5 separate regions of the Homo sapiens genome follow, and regions 1, 2, 4 and 5 are each reported to be linked to region 3. Evidence: microRNA targets listed by miRTarBase, many of them from high-throughput screens and not tested one by one. Region 3 holds a microRNA gene; each other region holds the end of a gene's coding sequence.

The links. Region 3 holds the annotated microRNA hsa-miR-576-3p (AAGAUGUGGAAAAAUUGGAAUC, at 2,104-2,125, opposite strand). A microRNA usually pairs through its seed, bases 2 to 8, with sites in the 3' UTR of a target mRNA and lowers its output. Matches are read on the target gene's strand: a 7mer-m8 pairs with bases 2 to 8, a 7mer-A1 pairs with bases 2 to 7 and ends in A, and an 8mer does both.
Region 1: miRTarBase lists SCARA3 as a target of hsa-miR-576-3p. Seed matches in the 3' UTR shown: 7mer-m8 at 2,110-2,116.
Region 2: the mRNA of TRAM1 is a reported target of hsa-miR-576-3p. Seed matches in the 3' UTR shown: 7mer-m8 at 1,548-1,554.
Region 4: miRTarBase lists AIRE as a target of hsa-miR-576-3p. Seed matches in the 3' UTR shown: 7mer-m8 at 1,399-1,405.
Region 5: miRTarBase lists YTHDF1 as a target of hsa-miR-576-3p. Seed matches in the 3' UTR shown: 7mer-m8 at 1,503-1,509.

Annotation. Positions count from the first base shown.
Region 1 is chr8:27,670,456-27,674,074 of GRCh38, reverse strand. SCARA3 (scavenger receptor class A member 3) reads right to left here. Exons shown (of 6, transcript NM_016240.3): 6 at 1,057-3,175. The coding sequence ends at 2,724. Among named protein-coding and RNA genes, the nearest start is that of MIR3622A, 29 kb to the left of the region's middle.
Region 2 is chr8:70,572,163-70,575,781 of GRCh38, forward strand. TRAM1 (translocation associated membrane protein 1) reads right to left here. Exons shown (of 11, transcript NM_014294.6): 11 at 1,056-2,843. The coding sequence ends at 2,770. Among named protein-coding and RNA genes, the nearest start is that of TRAM1, 34 kb to the right of the region's middle.
Region 3 is chr4:109,487,258-109,490,876 of GRCh38, reverse strand. It overlaps MIR576 (microRNA 576), which reads right to left and starts at 2,179; the gene lies at 2,082-2,179. All of the region lies in intron 4 of SEC24B (SEC24 homolog B, COPII component), which reads right to left.
Region 4 is chr21:44,296,808-44,300,426 of GRCh38, forward strand. AIRE (autoimmune regulator) reads left to right here. Exons shown (of 14, transcript NM_000383.4): 14 at 849-1,841. The coding sequence ends at 920. It overlaps PFKL (phosphofructokinase, liver type), which reads left to right and starts at 3,246. Exons shown (of 22, transcript NM_002626.6): 1 at 3,246-3,383. The coding sequence starts at 3,299. RefSeq lists enhancers at 772-831, 1,202-1,261, 1,592-1,701 and silencers at 2,799-3,468, 3,489-3,619.
Region 5 is chr20:63,193,854-63,197,472 of GRCh38, reverse strand. YTHDF1 (YTH N6-methyladenosine RNA binding protein F1) reads left to right here. Exons shown (of 5, transcript NM_017798.4): 5 at 739-2,044. The coding sequence ends at 765. Among named protein-coding and RNA genes, the nearest start is that of MIR124-3, 17 kb to the right of the region's middle. RefSeq lists an enhancer at 62-356.

The DNA.
Region 1 (3,619 bases), not on the chromosome of region 3:
AAGAAATATGTGGTAGGAGGCTTCCTGAGGACCCTCACCAATAGGAAAGTAGCCTGAGAACTGGATCTACCACTAGCCAGAGACACCAGACTGGAGTTCCAGCCCCAGATGTGCAGCAAACCCCTCAACTGCTCTCAGTCCTTGGTTTGTCCCATGAGAAGTAAGAGACTTGAGCCTCAGACTCCCCCAGGTCCCTCCCAGCTCTCACAGTTCAGGGAGCGTGAAATGAGACATGCAGGGGCTGGTGTGCTGGCTACTCACCTGCAGAGGAGCACAGAGCACACCCACTGTGGCCCAGGAGGCTCTTCACCCATATAATAAGTCCCACCGTGACAATGGCTGATGTTTATGGTGTGTTGAACATTGTCAGGTGCTGTGGACATCTCAGATGTCAGTGGGGAGGAGGGACCTCATGCTACTCACTATAGAGGAAGCGGTGAGGTCCATGTGAGGCAGCCATGTTTGGCCCCATCCTCACCCCCTGCCCTTTTGCTCACTTCCTCAACTAAGCACCAACCCACCAAAAAAACTCCAAAAAAACCCAAAAAACAGGGCTCCAGGCTTGCACTAGGTCACATTTTGCCAGTGAGTGAGGCTGCTGTGCCGACTCACAGAGGATCCGGCTGTCCTCTTCCGTAATCCGCAGACCCTGCCAAGCCAGGCCCCTTGGGGCAGGTCTGGCCTGGTCTCTGCCTCCTTTCCTGTTCTATCTCCTTGTCTTGGAGACAAAAGCCAGAAGCAGGAGGTATCACTCACATGTCCAGGCCTGCCCTGTTTTCCAATCTTGTTTTAGCCAAAGAGCTCCAGGGCCAGGCTGCAAGATGCATTGGGCTTAGCATTTCCCCCTCTGTTCCTGCTCTCTCTGAGTAATTCCCTCAGACGCTCTTGGTCCCTGGCCGAACTCAGTGTTTCTAAAATGAGGTTAGACCCAACTCCAGTGAGATTGAATTTTTGGGGGACCCTCGTCACTGGTTCTCCTTCAGAGGCCCACCTGGAGTGCAGCCCTGAAGGCATCATGCCCCCAAGTCAGGCAGAAAGGACTCAAAGACACCTCACTCCTGGAAATAGCTCTTTACTGAGTCAGTAATACTATGCAGAATGGTATTATCATATGTGGACAGGAGAGTTACATGGCCGTGGGGTGTGCAGTGCAAACCAGTTGCACATCCAGGACAGTCAGGAGGGTGCGGAAAGGCTTTGAGCAGGGAAGGGCTGCTCTCTGGGTCCGTGTTGGGAAGGAGACAACTCTATGCCCTAACCTTGCGGGCGGTGGAGGGGGTGGTGCCTGAATCTGTTTGAACATGAAGGCAAAGCAGCTTTAGAGTGTAGCCAACAGGAGACCTCCACCCTGTGGGGTGATTTCCCAGCGCCCCTCTCTGCCAGTGTGTGCAGGAAGTTGGTGGGTGCCAAGGAGTGATGACAGAGGGGGCCTCTGTGAGTGTCCAGGCCCTTCCCACTCCTAGTCCAGCTGGCTGCCCATGCAAAGAGGGCTCGGGCCATTGTGGGTCCCGGTGGGACAAGGTCGGCATGCAGCTGTGATCAGGAGAGCCGTGTGCGGGAGGCGAGAGCTGCCCTGTTGCAAGGGGTTGGCCCTTCTGCAGCCTAATCCTCCCCACCACTCCAGAGGAGCCCCCTTGGGGAATGGGGCAGGCCAGCCTCAGGGAGAGCAAGGGAGGCAGCTGTGCAGAGAGAACCTTCTGGCCTGCCTCTGTCTCCCATCTCCACTCAGGCCCAATGTTCCAGGGCCTGCAGAGTGCCCCCATGCAGATGAAACTCCTGCTTGGATTCCTTCCAGGCTGCTCCTGAAGGGCAGAGGCAAGGATGAATTGAGGAATTTTCTGGACACGTGAAGAAATAAATGTTGAACTTCTCAGGGGGCACTGTGTGCAAGGCCAGAGAATGTCAGCCTCGTGGCCCCACTGTGCTGTGACAGACAGGGACAGCTCCCGGGTATGCTGGTCCCCTGCTTATGGGGAGGGTCTTGTGGTTGCCAGGTCCACTTTGCCTCTGGAGTTTTGGCAGTAACGCCCCACCCGCAAAGGTTTCCTTGGGGCTTTTCAACCCCAGGGAGCCCTGGGAAACTGCTGGCCAGCATGGGTGCCCAGAGACAGATGTGAGACCTTCCTCCCGAGGTAGCTGCCTCCCTGGCAGGCTCAGTCACAGGAGAGGGGGTCTTCCTCTGCCCTCTCCTCCTGCCCAGCCAGGGAAACCCAGTTGGCCCACCTGGCCAGCAGAAAAATCTGTGTATGTGCATGTGTATATATGTGTTTGTGTGCATGGATATGTGTGCAGTGCATGTGTGTGTGCGTACATGTGTGTGCCTGTGCATATATGTGTGCATGTGTGTGTGCATGTGTATGTGTGCATGCATGTGTGCCTGTGTATGTGTGCACGTGTATGTGTGCATGTGTGTGTGCGTGCATGTGTGTGTGCATGCATGTATGCCTGTGTATGTGTGCATGCATGTGTATGTGTGCATGTGCGTGTATGTGTGCATGTGTGTGCATGCATGTGTGTGCATGTGCACATGTATGTGTGAGGAGGGGCTGCTTTCCTATGGCACAGTCACTATGGGGGAGCCCAAAGCTGCAGGGTCAGCCCTGGGGAGCCCCCTCATTGGAATCAGAGGACCACAGCTGTCTGTAGGTGAGGCTTTCTGGGGCCTGGATCTGCTCTGCGCCCCTCCGGCATTCTGTGTGACAGTGGCTCTGCCACAGCCCTCCTCAGTAGAAGCTCTGGCTTCCTGGTGGACCTGGAGGCCCCGGGAGACCAGGGGGACCCTGGATCCCTGGTTCACCCTTAGGCCCCATGGCCCCCCGCTGGCCTGGTGACCCTGTCTTCCCTGCAATTCCCGGTTTTCCCTGAGGCCCTGAGGGCCCTGGAGACCCCGGGGGCCCTTCTGGCCCTGGGGGCCCTATGTCCCCTTTTGGGCCTGGCTGTCCTCTCGGCCCTCCAGTTCCAAAGCTGCCCTTTGAGCCTTTGAGGCCTGGGAACCCTCGAGGGCCAACAGGGCCCCTTTCTCCCACAGGCCCGGCCTCTCCAGGTTGCCCCTGAGGACCCTGGGGTCCCAGGGGGCCCAAGCTGCCGGGGTCTCCTTTCGGGCCTCTGCCGCCAACAGGCCCTTTCACGCCCATATCTCCTTTGAATCCTCTTGGTCCTGGAGGGCCGGGGGCACCTGAGGTTGGAGAGAAGATGGGAGAGGTCAGTCTGTCAGGGGCTCCCCACCCGAGGCTCGCCCATGAGCAGAGCGGGCACGGCGACAGCCCGAGGGTTGAACAAGTCCAGCGGACACTCATTTCTCACTGCAAGGCTTGCCGATAGCTCCACACACACACTGAGGTTAGGGAACAAGGGGCTGGCCAGCTTCGAGAAGCTCCGCACACACACTGAGATTAGGGAACAAGGGGCTGGCCAGCTTCGAGAAGGGGCCAAGGTTGTCCAGGATTGCCTGTCCTGCTCTGAGGCCAGTCTGACCTCCTGTACCTTCTCATGCATGGTCTTTGACCACTGTATTCACCCCCACCCCACCCCCATGACTTCTCAGTCATTTGGGAACAGGGTTCAAGTCAGGTGACATGGAGGAGAAAACTAAGAAAGTGGGGCATGAGAAATAGGTGTG
Region 2 (3,619 bases), not on the chromosome of region 3:
AGCACTAAATTTACAATAACCAAGTTATGGAATCAACCTAATGTCTATCAGCAGATGAATGGCTAAAGAAAATGTGGAAAATGGGGTATATATACACAATGGAATACTATTCAGCCTTTAAAAAAGACATTCTGTCATTTGTGACAACATGGATGAAACTGAAGAACATTATGCTAAGTGAAGTAAATCAGACACAGAAAGACAAATATGGCACATACTTACTTATATATGGAATCTAAAACAAACTCACAGAATCAGAGTGTAGAATGACGGTTACAAAGGCTCAGGGCTGAGAGGAATGGGGAGATGATGGTCAAAGGGTGTAAAATATGGCAGAAGGAATTTTTTAGTTCTACTGCACAGCATGGTAAATATAGTTAATAACAGCATTATACATTTCAAAACTAAATTTCCATGTTCTCATCACAAAAAATGTTAAGTGTTTGAGGTGATGGATGTTAACTAGCTTAATTATTCCATTATACTCATAAATCATAACACCATTTTGTACCCCCACGTACAATTATAAATTGTCAATTTACAGTTAAAAAAAATGCAGGAGGCATTTTGTGGAGGGAAAGACTAAACCCCAGAGTAGCAAAGCAACTAATTCATGGTCCCCCCGGGTTTAAGACAGAGCCATGAGCCTTGTCCAGGTGTGGGTCCCTACAGGATTCCCATCATGCTTTGAAGCTCGACTTGAGCCCAGGTGATAATGGCAGGCTCTGCAGGATCTGGAAGCCAGTACAGACTTTCCTCAGCACATTTGAGAGCAGGATGTAGGGCTCATAATTTATAATCATACTTGTGTGTATATGTGCTTCTGTGTATATATTAGCCCTTGGTAATGACATGTCAAGGGCTTTTTTTTTTCTTTGCCTAAACACAGTGTATGCTGCAGAAAACAAAGTGCTATAGTAATTCAGTGAACAGAAAATTCTACAGGCAAATAAGGTGGGAAACACTGCATATTATATCCAACATTCTTGGTGCACCAGGAAACACGTTTGCATATTAAGGACTGAACGGTCCCATAATAAAGAGACACCTTTAGGTTAGTTTAATCCAGTGATTCCCAGATTTATTTGGTTATGACCATCTATCCCCCCAGTAGTCCTCACCAATATTCTGTGGAACAAATCTGTTTATTTGCAGAACACAATTTTGAAAAGGGTTATTCTGAATGTCTATGAAGTGTTTTAAATATGGTACATTTTAATGAGGTTATATACCAAAATAGCCTAAACACCAACAATGACAGAAACATCCAGGATACAACTTGTGAAAGTAAAAATTTTTATTTTGATTGATTTCTCAATGTATAGTTCAGTATAATGCCAGTTTTTAATGGCAAAAATTTGGTTCCACTGAAACTCCATAATGCTACAGAGAGCTACTACTTTTTCCAGGAAGTAGGTTAACAGCTAGAAAGAAAAAGGACAATTTCCTAGCAGCATGGCAACTTAAACTGCAGATCTAATAGGTCTGCAACTTTTACACTAAAAATGGCACAAACAGCTGGTGACACAAGTGAGAAATGGGGAACAAGATGTGAACACTGAAAAGAACAATATATATACTGTAAATATGATGAATAAACCAAATGTAGCTATAAGAATCTTAAAGGATGATTATAGAAAAGGGAACCAAATATTTTCCTCAAATGCTTTTTAGAGCCTTTCTGTAGAGATACAAATATATATATATATATTTATCCAAAAATATGTTTTATACAGATAAATGTTTCTCAATTAAAGATGGGACCAAAGCTATAGGTATAACATAAAGCACATTGTCTTTTGTAAGACTATTTATCCACCTGAATTTTCAATTTCTTTAAAGTTAGTGCATTAAATGTTTTCCAAATATAATTACCTGTCAGTCTTTTTATAGATATAAATCAAGTAGGCATTATGTTTTAAAAGTGTTTGCAGGTTAAACTTTTCTAAGATGCTGTGCATATTAAACTTATTATGAGCCCCATTAAGAATCATTATTAATAAACATATCAAAAAGGGCTATATGTCAGATTTTCCTGTTCATAGTAAATATTTTCTGATTTCCAGTTTACAAGTATTGAAAATGCACAAGAAAGATTTTACTTCACAAGTACTTTTAAGAATATACTTTGATTTAATATGTATGTTAGTAAAACTCCACGTGTTGTAACGATTATTATGTTTTTGTTTTTAAAATGGGGATGTAATACTAATAACCACTACCTATAAAATAAAGCACACAATTGTTCCGGTGATTTTACAAATCTTTTTTTCCAGGTGTAAAGTCTACAAAAATTCCAAAAAATTAGAGAACACTGAAAACATATTAAAGTTTGACATCCAACTTTATAGTATTTCCATGTTACCCTGAAAGATAACTTAAAAAATATGGCCTTCTTAGAACAGGCCACTCTGCTATTATAAAAAATTGGTGACAGCAAGAAATTGTATCACTGATATGTGGAATTTTTGTAAATAGTTTTCTCTCCAAATCATTAGAAAAATGTTCAAAAATAAAAACAAAATAAAATATGGTGGTGGTCCCTAAACTATTTTGAAGGCAGGTAGCTTAGTCTAAGCTAAAATATTTTTTTCATTCATAGCAATAATCCTCCCCTCAAATGCCCTTTAAAAAAATGCATGAAACCGTACAATAGCAAAAATCAAAGAGCACAGACTGTATTTTCAAGAACAGAAAAATCTCTAATGCTGAAAGATATAGTAGAAAGCAGATTTCTTTGGGGACATTAATCAATTAGTTTATAATTCATTATGAAGATTTCTCTTTTTTATTCCGGGGAGAGTCTGCTACATTTGAAGTTAATGTTCCATTCACACCATTTTCTGCAAAAAGAAAAGAATCCATGTTACTCTCTTTTATAAATAAATGCAAGTTATAATCTTTATATGTAAAGATACCTTCAGAAAAGAAAATGTAAAATCCAATTCACTCAGGTGAAATTTACTTACCAGTATTTAACCAATCACAAAACCTGGTAACATTTTTAACACAATGAACTGAAAGTAGCAAATTAAAAGAAAACTACTATTAAAAGCAGAAAAAAGTGACAGCACAGAAAACTATAAAGTCACAAGAATTTAAAAATAGTATTCAAGAGAAATACCTTCTGTAGAAATAAAGAAACTTTTCACATTTGACAGCGAAGTCCTTGGGGATATTTGTTTACAATATAGTAAAGTTGGTGTTTAGGATAATTTCTATGTGGAGGCGTGTATTATGGCCTTCTTTTTATTTATTTATGTTACTGTTGTTTTTTGAGACAGGGTCTCACTCTGTCACCAAGGCTGTGTAGTGGCACGATCATGGCTCAATGCAGTCTTGAACTCCCGGGGACCAGTGATGCTCCCGGGGACCTCAGCCTCCCAAATAGCTGGGACTACAGGCATGTGCCACCACACCTGGCTAATAGTAATGGCCTTCTTCAAGCTATGATGGAGTAGCGTATGTGTGACTGACTCTCTCTCCAAAAATACAAAAGTTGCATACAGAAATGGATGTTTGAGGCGGGGGCAATGGCTTGCACCTATAATCACAGCACAAGTGGAATCCCAGCACAGATATCATTGAACTGAATAATAATGAAAAAGACATATTGAAA
Region 3 (3,619 bases):
TAAATGAGGAGTCTGTGGCTTAGGTTGCTATCTGGCATGCTACTAAGCTTTTCTGTGTCTCAGTTTACATATCTGCAGAATAGAGATTAAATAACACCTGCCATATTTAATAAGGTAATATAAATGAAAGGCACACTAATTCATATAAATGTTAGACTATAAGAATTTTCATTATGTGTGCTCATTCAAAACCTGTTAAGATGAGAGTTCAGTGACAATTTATGATGAAATGTGGTCACAGGTCACATGAAAAGAACAAGCAATATACTTCTTCCATTCATTCAACAAATATTTTGAGACCTACAATTATCCTGGGTACGTATGCTAGCGTATATTATGATGAATAAAATAAAAAATCTGCATGATCCTTCTATTATGTTAGAGATCTTGCTTTGTTTCACAGTAAGACAAAATTCTGTGCTACAGAGGTTATCCCTTGCTATTAATACCAGTATTATAACTGGTGTTTAAACTACATTTAGGTTAATTTTCAATTGTAATAGGGAAGGAACAGGTATGCATAATTATTTTTCATTGAATAATTTTAGATGAACATGAGAATCAGGTATACCGACTCAGGGCATAATAGCTGATGTTTTTTGTGTAGGAACATTTTCTTATCAGCAAAGAACATGATTTGGAGGCAAAGACTGCAGTTACATCAACTCCATCATTTACTTGCTATGTAACTTTGTGGTTCTTTTCTCCTAAGAATAAGTGAAGGTAACTTGCTATATAACTCTTCTGCAAAATGCTAACGATTTTTTAAATGTCCTATGTGTGGTTTTTTATGTTCTTATAAGGTCTAAATGAGACAGTGGATATGAAGACACCCATTAAATAAGTAATAGGTAGAAGACACTAATATTTATGCAGTGCCTTCTTCGTGATAAGTAGAACAATTTTGCACATATATTTTTCCTCTTAATAAAGAATGGAAAGTAATGCCCTTTCCTTTGTGTTCCTTTTATTTGTGAATTTTAAACTAAAGCAGAATGCTGATATATCAGGTCAAAAGTCTCCAAATATTCATCAACAGATGAATGGATAAACAAAATATGGTATATCTATAAAATGGGATATTATTTAGCCATAAAAATGAAGTATGGATACACGCTACAATGTGAATGAAACCTGAAAATTTGCTTAAGTGAAATAAATCAAACAAAAAAGACCATATATATTATCATATGTATATATCACATGTATATATCATATATATACCATATATATCATATATATACCATATATATTATAATATATAATATATATAATTCTATTTATATGAAAGACCCAGGCTGAGGGGAGGGGAAAATGGGGAGTGACTGAGTGTAGGATTTTCTTTTGGGATGATGAAAATGTCTAGTACTTCACAAAATTAGATAGAGCTAAATAGAAGTGGGGACTGCACAACACTGTACATGTACTAAATGCCACTGAATTATACAATTTAAAACAGTTAATTTTATGTTATGCATATTTTTCCTTAATAAAACTAAACAATTTACCATGACATTTCAATGGGGAAATAATATTCTTTTCAGCAAATGGTGCTGGAACAACTAGACATATCCACACGCAGAAGAACAAAGCTGGACCCCTTCCCTACACCACAACTAACTCAAAATGGATCATAGACATAAAATGTAAGTGCTAAAACTATAAAACTCTTAGAATACAGGAATAAATCTTCATGACTAAATGAATTTTTAGATATGACATCAAAGGTACAAGCAACAAAAGAAAAAAGATAATTTGGACTTCATCAAAATTAAGAACTTTTGTGCTCTAAAGGTTACCGTATCATCAAGAAGTAAAAAGACAACCCACAGAATGAGAGTAAATATTTGCAAATCATATATCTGATAAGGGGTTAATATCCAGAATATGTAACAAACTCTTACAACTCAACAATAAAACAACAAATAACCAAATTTAAAATGGGCAAAAGATTTGAACAGATATTTATCCAAAGAAGATAAACAAATGACCAATAAACACATGAAAAGATGCTCAACATCACAATCCCATTAGGAAAATGAAAATCAAAACAACGAGATAACATTTCACATCCACTAGGATGGTTATAACCAATCGAATGAGGATTCCAATTTTTCCACATCTTTGCCAAACCTTATTACCAAAGACGTGGAGAAATTAGAATCCTCGTTGGATTGTAAAATGGTGCAGTTACTTTGGAAAACAGTTTGGCAGTTTCTCAAAAGTTAAATACAGAGTTCTGACCCAGCAATTCTACTCAAGAGAAATGAAAACATAAACCTACACAAAAACTTGTTGACAAATGTTCACAGCAGGAGTATTCATAACAGCCAAAAAGCAGAAACAACCCAAATGTCCATCAACTCATGAATGGATAAATAAAATGTGATACATTCACATATGGAATATTTTTTGGTAACAAAAAATAATAAAGTACTGACATATGCCATAATGTGGATGAACCTTGAAAACATTATGTTAAAAGAAAGATGCAAGTAACAACCACATATTATATGATCTCTACATATAAAATGTTCAAAATAGACAAACCTGTAGAGACAGAGGATTAATGGCTGCCTAGAGCTGCGTGTGGTTGTGCGGGGAGGGTAGAATGGGAAGAAGGCTAAAACATATGAAGTTTCTATTTTGGGGTGAAGAAAATGTTCTGGAATTACATAGTAGTGATGGTTGCTACTTTGTGAATATGCTAAAAACTGCAGAACAGCACAACTTAAATAGGTGAATTTTATGGTATGTGAATTATTTCTCAAAACTGCTATTAAAAATATCATGGGCATTCTAAGAAAAACTTTTAAATGTATATATCAAGAAATAACTACTCTTGAAAAAAAATAAAGTCCAAAGATAAAAGATTACTTATATATGAACTTATTCCAAAGAACATACTACTACTCAGTTAAGATGTTTAGTTTCTTTCATGTCAAATCAACTGTTAATATTTTAAAGATTGTTCATTTTAATAAGGCTATAAGTTTTAAAGTATTAATTTTTTTATTCTATTTTGTTTACTGAATAGTTTGAAATCTGCTAGTTTACTTTAAATTCACTTTCAGAAGAAAAAATGACTGCAAATCTCTATTTGTGAACCTGTCAAAATATCAAAGCAATGATAATTGTTATAAACCCAAATAAATCAGTAAGCTAAACAGACTCATGATATTTTGCTATTTAGATTAATGCGTTCTAAGTAACGCATTAATCAGAGGTCATGCCATTACTGGCAAATAAATCAAAAAGGTATTTTTATAAAACAGTACCTGATTGAAAACTTATGTGTTAACATTCTGAACATGCTTAGAAACAGCCTTTACTAATTTCCCCACCATCTTAGTGAATAAGGTGTAAATGCCTTCACACTGTCATAAAACAAACTTCAAAATTTGGCTTCTACTTGTCCTTTCCACCTGCATCTCTCACCTGTCCCTTTACCATCCTCCCTTTTACCTTATTTTGCAGTTACACCAAACTTCTGACTCTTGACCCAATACTACATTTTTTTCTTCTGTTTATGCATTATGTCTGTTAGCCATAATTTCCTTTCTTCACATGGCAAATTACTACTCATCCTTCAAATTTCAAATCCTTTGTCAAACTTTTC
Region 4 (3,619 bases), not on the chromosome of region 3:
GAGGGTGGGGCGTGGGAGTGGGGGGGGGGTCCCAGACCCCGTCCCTCTAAGATTTGCTTGCCCCTCCCAACTCAGGCCTCTCTACGCTAAGATGGGCAGGTAGAATCTGTGGGGAAAATGTGACTTTTAAGGGCTCTGTCTGTTTTTGCCAAGAGGATAAGCTCCTTCAGCCTCCACGGGTTCTCCTCAGTGTCTGATGTGGCACCCGGGGGTCCCAGCTGACCATGGGGCAGGGGTTCTGCCCTGTGCAGTGGCCGTGCCCCACACACCCTGACCGTGCAGGTGTCTGCAGAGCCCCAGGGCCTGAGAGTGGGCCAGGGGGCCCAGCGCTGGGTAATGGAGCTGCCCCTCTGGATGGGGTCCCCGGGTATAGCTGGAGAAATGAGCGACGGGCTCACAGCCTCTCCCGGGTGGCGGTCTTATTCTGCTGGCATCGTGGGGCCCGTGGCCCCATCCTGTGGGAGCATCAGGCTCCTGAGCAGAATAAGTAGCTGGCCCCGACCCCCCCACCCTGAAGGAGCCACCCGAGGAGGCAGAACTGCCATGAACTGCCATGGGGATGTGCCCTGGGCTTATAGGATGTGGTGAAGTACACAGGACAGGGTCCTCGGTCTGGCCTGTGCCATGGGGACCTTGGGCCTCAGTTTCCCCACCTTTGATGGAATACGGTGAAGTGCACAGGACAGGGTCCTCCCCAGACTGGCCTGTGCCATGGGGCCTCGGGCCTCAGTTTCCCCACCTTTGACTTAGAGGGAAGGTTGGATGGTGACTTCTTGTAACGATGGCCATGATTCTGTGGCTGCGGCGGGGGCGCACCTGGAGGTTCTCACCGTCACTCTGTCCCGCAGCACACCTTCGATGGCATCCTGCAGTGGGCCATCCAGAGCATGGCCCGTCCGGCGGCCCCCTTCCCCTCCTGACCCCAGATGGCCGGGACATGCAGCTCTGATGAGAGAGTGCTGAGAAGGACACCTCCTTCCTCAGTCCTGGAAGCCGGCCGGCTGGGATCAAGAAGGGGACAGCGCCACCTCTTGTCAGTGCTCGGCTGTAAACAGCTCTGTGTTTCTGGGGACACCAGCCATCATGTGCCTGGAAATTAAACCCTGCCCCACTTCTCTACTCTGGAAGTCCCCGGGAGCCTCTCCTTGCCTGGTGACCTACTAAAAATATAAAAATTAGCTGGGTGTGGTGGTGGGTGCCTGTAATCCCAGCTACATGGGAGCCTGAGGCATGAGAATCACTTGAACTCGGGAGGTGGAGGTTGCAGTGAGCTGAGATTGCGCCACTGCACTCCAGTCTGGTCGGCAAGAGTGAGACTCCGTCTCAAAAACAAAACAAAACAAAAAAACCACATAACATAAATTTATCATCTCGACCACTTTTCAGTTCAGTGGCATTCACATCTCATGTAACCATTGCCACCACCATCTGCAGAGCTGTTCCAGCTTCCTGAATGGAAACTCTGGCCCCATGAAACACTCACTCCCCATTCCCCTCCCAACCCCTGGCACCCTCCACTCTACTTTCTGTCTCTATGACTTCTCCAGGGACCTCATGGAAGTGGAATCACACAGTATCTGTCCTTTTGTGTCTGTCTTATTTTACTCAGCATGGTGGCCCCAAGGTTCATCCATGTTGTAGCATGTGCCGAAATCTGCTTCCTTTTTTAAGGCTGAGTAATATTCCAGCACATGGATGGACTGCATTGTGTTCATCTATGCTTTCCTCAGCAGACACCTGGGTGCTTCCACCTTTTGGCTGTTGTGAGTAATGCTGCTATGAATATGTGTGTGCAAATATCTGTGTGAGTCTTTGAGTAAAATCGCTGGATCACATGGTAATTATATTTTTAATTTTTTGAAGAACTGCCATCCTGTTTTCCACAGCAGCTACACCATTTCACATCCCCACCAACACTGCATGAGGGTTCCAGCCTCCCCATATCCTTGAAACAATTACTATTTTCTGCATTTTTCTTTCTTTTCTTTTCTTCTTTTTTTGAGACGGAGTTTCGCTCTTGCTGCCCAGGCTGCAGTGCAATGGCGCAGTCTCCACTCACTGCAACCTCTGCCTCCTGGCTTCAAGTGATTCTCCTGCCTCAGCCTCCTGCATAGCTGGGATTACAGGCGCACACCACCATGCCCGGCTAATTTTTGTATTTTTAGTAGAGACGGGGTTTCACCATGTTGGCTGGGCTGGTCTCGAACTCCTGACCTCAGACCTCAGGTGATCCACCCCCCCCCCCCCCCCCCACCCCACGGGCCTCCCAAAGTTCTGGGATTATGGGCGTGAGCCACTGCGCCCAGCCTGTGTTTTTCTTTTATAGTAGCCATCCTAATGGGTATGAGGTGGTACCTCATTGTGGCTAAACCATGTACGTTTAAGAATTTACACACACACACACACACACACACACACACACGTGATGAAGCTGTAAGAAAAGGGAGAGAATAATGACCCAAAATGTCAGCACAAGGATGCCTCAGGGGTAGACACAGGTGTCTTCTTAGCGCCTTTTAGCCCACGCATATGTGCTTGCGCAGTCTCTCGGTGTGTTTTCTAACATTTCACAATTAAATAAGGAGTAGTTGATATTCACAGCCACCATTTCCACCGTATATGTAGAGAAAAATGCTCAAATCCTAGCGATCAGCCCGCTGAGCTTTCACAAACCGAACACACCGTGCGGTCACGAGGCGGCTCTCCCGAACACCGGCTCTGCACCCCCAGGGCCCGGGGAACCAAGACTTCCCCAAGGGCCCAGCAAAAGTGAGGGAGGAGGGGAGGAAAGGAGGGAGAGGGAGGGAGGAGTGCTGGCTGCTTTCCGCCAGCGCCTCGTTTGGGTTTCGCTCTGCTGAGGCCTGAAGGCGCCCTGAGGGCCCCTGGGGGGCAGGGAGGGGCGGTGGCTGCGGCCGACAGCAAGGAACCTCCGGAGAAGCGAAGCCGGGCCAGACGTGCCACCGGGGCCTCGGCGCTGGCGAAGGGGCGCGTGCGGCCGCACTGGGGCCAGCCCCGCCCTGGTCCCCGGCCACATCCTCGAGACCACCGGGGTGGAGGGGGGGGTCTCACTGCTCAGGGCCCGCGTGACATTGCACAGGTTTAGAAACGCACAGCGGGAAGGTGGCCCCGGCGGGCCGAGGGCGCAGGATCCCTGCTCCGTCCAGGGTCCGTCCTGCGAGGAGGCGCCGGGGGCGGGCCCGGGGCGGGGCGGGCGGAAGGCGCGCGCGGGGCGGGGCGGGGACGGCGACGCGGCGCAGGCGGCGGGAGTGCGAGCTGGGCCCGTGTTTCGGCCGCCGCCATGGCCGCGGTGGACCTGGAGAAGCTGCGGGCGTCGGGCGCGGGCAAGGCCATCGGCGTCCTGACCAGCGGCGGCGACGCGCAAGGTGGGCGGGGGTCCCGGCCGCGTCGCGGCGCAGGGGGTGGAGGGCGCCTCCGCCCTGGCCTCTCCGGAGCGCCCGCCGAGCCCCGGGACCCGGGTCTCGGGCCGGCCCGGCCTCCCGCCCCGGCCTCCCGCCCCGGCCTCCTGCCCCGGGTCTGTCCCCCGCTCTTCCCCGGCGCGGTCTCCGGCCTACGTGCGGCCGGCCACGTTCTCGGCCTCCGCCTGGGTCTTGGCGCCGCC
Region 5 (3,619 bases), not on the chromosome of region 3:
GGGAAAAGATTCGGGTGTAAGTCTCAAGCTTGTGTGTCACATACACTCTGGAAAAGATGATTCTCTTACGGGAGTGGGCAGCAAACCTGGTCAGAGGAGCTTTGCCTTGAGCCAGTCTAGCCGTGGGGGAGTGGGGAGGGGCATGCTCTTCCCCTTGGCGTGGGAGTGAGCTGGGGAGTGGGAAGGGCCTGAACTGGACAGGCCCACACCGGTCCTCCTGCCCTTCATTAGCCACATGACACAGCACCTTGTTAGCCAGTTGGAAGGATTTTGGTGTCCTTTGTGCCACTGAGAAGTTTAAATGAGATAAAATACAGAAGAACAGCTTCTGTCTCCCTGGCCTCCTTGAGAGCCTGGTGCGTGCCAGCTCCTCCCTCTGAGTGCAGAGAATTTCACATTGCTAAGTGTCTTTCCATGTGGAATGATAGTGGCACATGAGGGAAAGACAGCTGTGGGAAGTGAGGCTTCCCAGCAGACAGGTGGCCCATGTGACCGTTGTGGTTGATGCTTTTCTCCTGGTAGAGGGGGTGGGGAGAATGCCATGCCCAGTGTGGCCAGTCCCCCACAGAGCAGGCCCCAGTGCAGCTCAGAGTTGTGTGCTGGTGTGGCTTGGGTACCATTCAGGGTCCCGCCTCCAGATTTGCAGGTGCTGCTAAGGGGCAGCCTCGGATCTCACTTTTGGGAGGGATTCATTGGTGTGGTTACTCTGCGTTCAACTTTTGTTTTTTCTTTTTACAGGAACGGCAGAGTCGAAACAAACAATGAGGGCGAACCAGTTTCTTACATGTTCTAACGTTTGACTTTGAAAACAGTTTAAAACACGTGTGCTTGGTCAGCTCCAGTGTGTCGTCCCGTGCGGGGGTTGAGTGTTGCATCTTTGCCTTTCTTGTCGTTGATTTTTGCCCAGATGGATCTGCATTTATTTGTACTTTTTCTATGTATTATAATCCTGTAGAAGTCACTAATAAAGGAGTATTTTTTTTGTCAGCTTATCAATCAGACTGATCTAATGTGAAATGTAAGTATCCTTAAAAACAAAGCATCTATTTTGGCAGAAATTGTGTTCTTAAATTCAGTCATTTGATATTCTGTGAGACTTCATATTTCTCATCCCTTTATTGCTTTTTAGCAAACATAAGAAACCATGAGTCATTTTGTCATTTAGAGTATTCTGATAAAATCTCTTGAAAATACTGAAATCAAAAGGTTAATGATTTTTTGTTCATTCTGATTTGTCATTTTATTATCTGTTATCGGTCTAAAGTGCTAATTTACCCATTTGATTTTTCTGCTAGACAGATAACTTTTAATTTTTCAAATTTGGCAGACACTTTTTTTTTTTTTTTGAAAATCTTTCCTTCCAGATCTGTTGCCCACTGAACAGCCACCCGTCCCTCACTGTCCTGGTGTCCGATTGGGCTGGATGGTGTTGGGGCATGATGTGTGGAGGAACTGGAAGGTGCTTTAGGTCTGGTTCAGGGTCGGGCATTCTTTGTTGTTTGCACATCTTTTTAAATTTTACACCTTTTCTTAAGAATTCTAATGCCGTCTTAAGTTTTTATACCAATAATGCTGAGCTTTAAGTGTAGGATCTGGTAGTACAGACAGTGTGATGGATGATGCTGCTGGTTGTAAATTTCATCGTGTGTGTCTAATTTTTTTTCCTGTTGAATGGGTAAAAACAAAACAAAACTTTTTTTAGAAGATGAATTTGCTGTCATGTTTTGTGGAATGAGGGACCGTTGAGCTCACTACCACCTGGAGTTTGAGTTGAAGCATGAAAATGGTGCCCATGCCTGACGCTCCAGCGCCTGGATCTGCACGTGCCCTTGTAGAGGATCCTTACCGTCCTAGAGAGCAGACGCTTTCTGAAAACTACTTGCTCCAAAAGACCCTCTGAGTTAACGTTTCAGCTGTATCATTAGACTTGTATTTAGAGCGTGTCACTTCCTCTGAACTGTTACTGCCTGAATGGAGTCCTGGACGACATTGGGTTTTTCCTCTAGGAGAATACAAGCCTTAATAAACAATACTATTTAGCAAACTTGGTGTCACCTCATTCTTCACCCTACTTGATGAGTTTATGTGTTGGAGCTTTTTAAGCTGCAGAGCCATTCGGGGAGTCACCGTAGAAAGCCCTGTGTTTCTCAAGGTGTGGGATTCTCGTTCCCTCGCTTTGGAAGAGGGAGCTGTTAATTTCCTTAAGACTATAAACTACATGGCACCGTCACCCACCCCTCATCACATGAATGTGCAGACGCAGCGGTGCGTGCAGCACCTGGGCACCGCTACCCCCTTTCTGGACTTGGCTCCTCACCGTCTCTCTCCATTCATCCTCCAATGCCTCTTATTATTTATGCAATAAGAGTTTAATACCTGTTTAGTTTGTTTTCCTTTTGAGGTAAAATTTATAAGCAGTGAAATGCACATTGTGTACATCTGCAGAAGTTGACAAGTATGTGATAAAGTTATGCAATATTAGCCTCAGCCCAGAAAATCCTGAGCTCAGGCAATCCGCCCGCCTTGGCCTCCCAAAGTACTAGGATTACAGGCACGAGCCACCACACCCAGTCTGTGAAGAGATTTTTTTAACAGAATTTTTAAGAGAATGCAATGCAAAATACAGAGTTCTTAATTTTTCCAGTTTTACATTTGAGGGGTAGGGAGGAAATGTTAATTCTTAAGAGTAGGATCTGCATATCCAGGTCCTTAATCCAAATACTCTGGAGCCTTCTCGGGACAGGGAACACCACATCTGCTTTTGAGAGCAGCCACGGTTGAGGAGGCTGGTGGTTATTCCAGTGCCCAGCAAAGTTTATTATTAACCGGAAGACACATTCAGTCCATTTTTAACAAAAGAGGAGGTTTCAGGTTAAATGGGTGTCCCGCCCGCTGGTTTTATTAGTTTGCATCTTGATAGATAAGGGGGCCAGATGAGGATGGCATCTTTCCCAGGCAGTCACCACCTCTGCCAGAAGTTAGTAGTTGGTTTAAGGAAACACAAAATGAGAACGGGAAAACGTGTCTGTTCTGACAGGCCAGTTAGAGGTAGGCTGTGTGCTCCCACCTGCAGCTCCAAATGCTGCTGTCATTTTAGGGAAGTGTGTTTTCAACCTCGAGTGGCTAATTCCTTCATTTTATGCCATTTTCTTGCTTGTATTCAAGTCCTGGCCTCCTTTAAAGATGAGTTCCCGGCTTTCAGAATGCTGAGCCGAGAGGTGCTGAAAGGTGGCAAGCATGACGACAGGTGCCATGCTTTATCTTTGTTGTTTCGTTGTTGTGGAAGAAGTGGATGCTGTTGTCCCCACAGAGTGGGAGGTGGTGGCAGGGACTCTGGCAAGTGGTAGTTGCTGACTGGCTTGTGAATGGATAGTGGATTGGGCGGTCTAGACAACACCTCCCCTGAGGCCTCCAAACCGGAGGAGGCAGTGGCTTCTCCTTCTGCCAACTTGGAAAGTTTTGTAGAACTGACACCGTGTCTGGGTGTTTGGGGCCTCCTGCCTGCATTCGTGGTGCATGGTAATGCCAGGCAAGGAGCCAGGCCTACCAGGGGAAGGGAGAACCGAAAGGCATAGGTTTGTGGAGTGAGAATTGGGGGGGCGGGGGAGGGATTTCATCT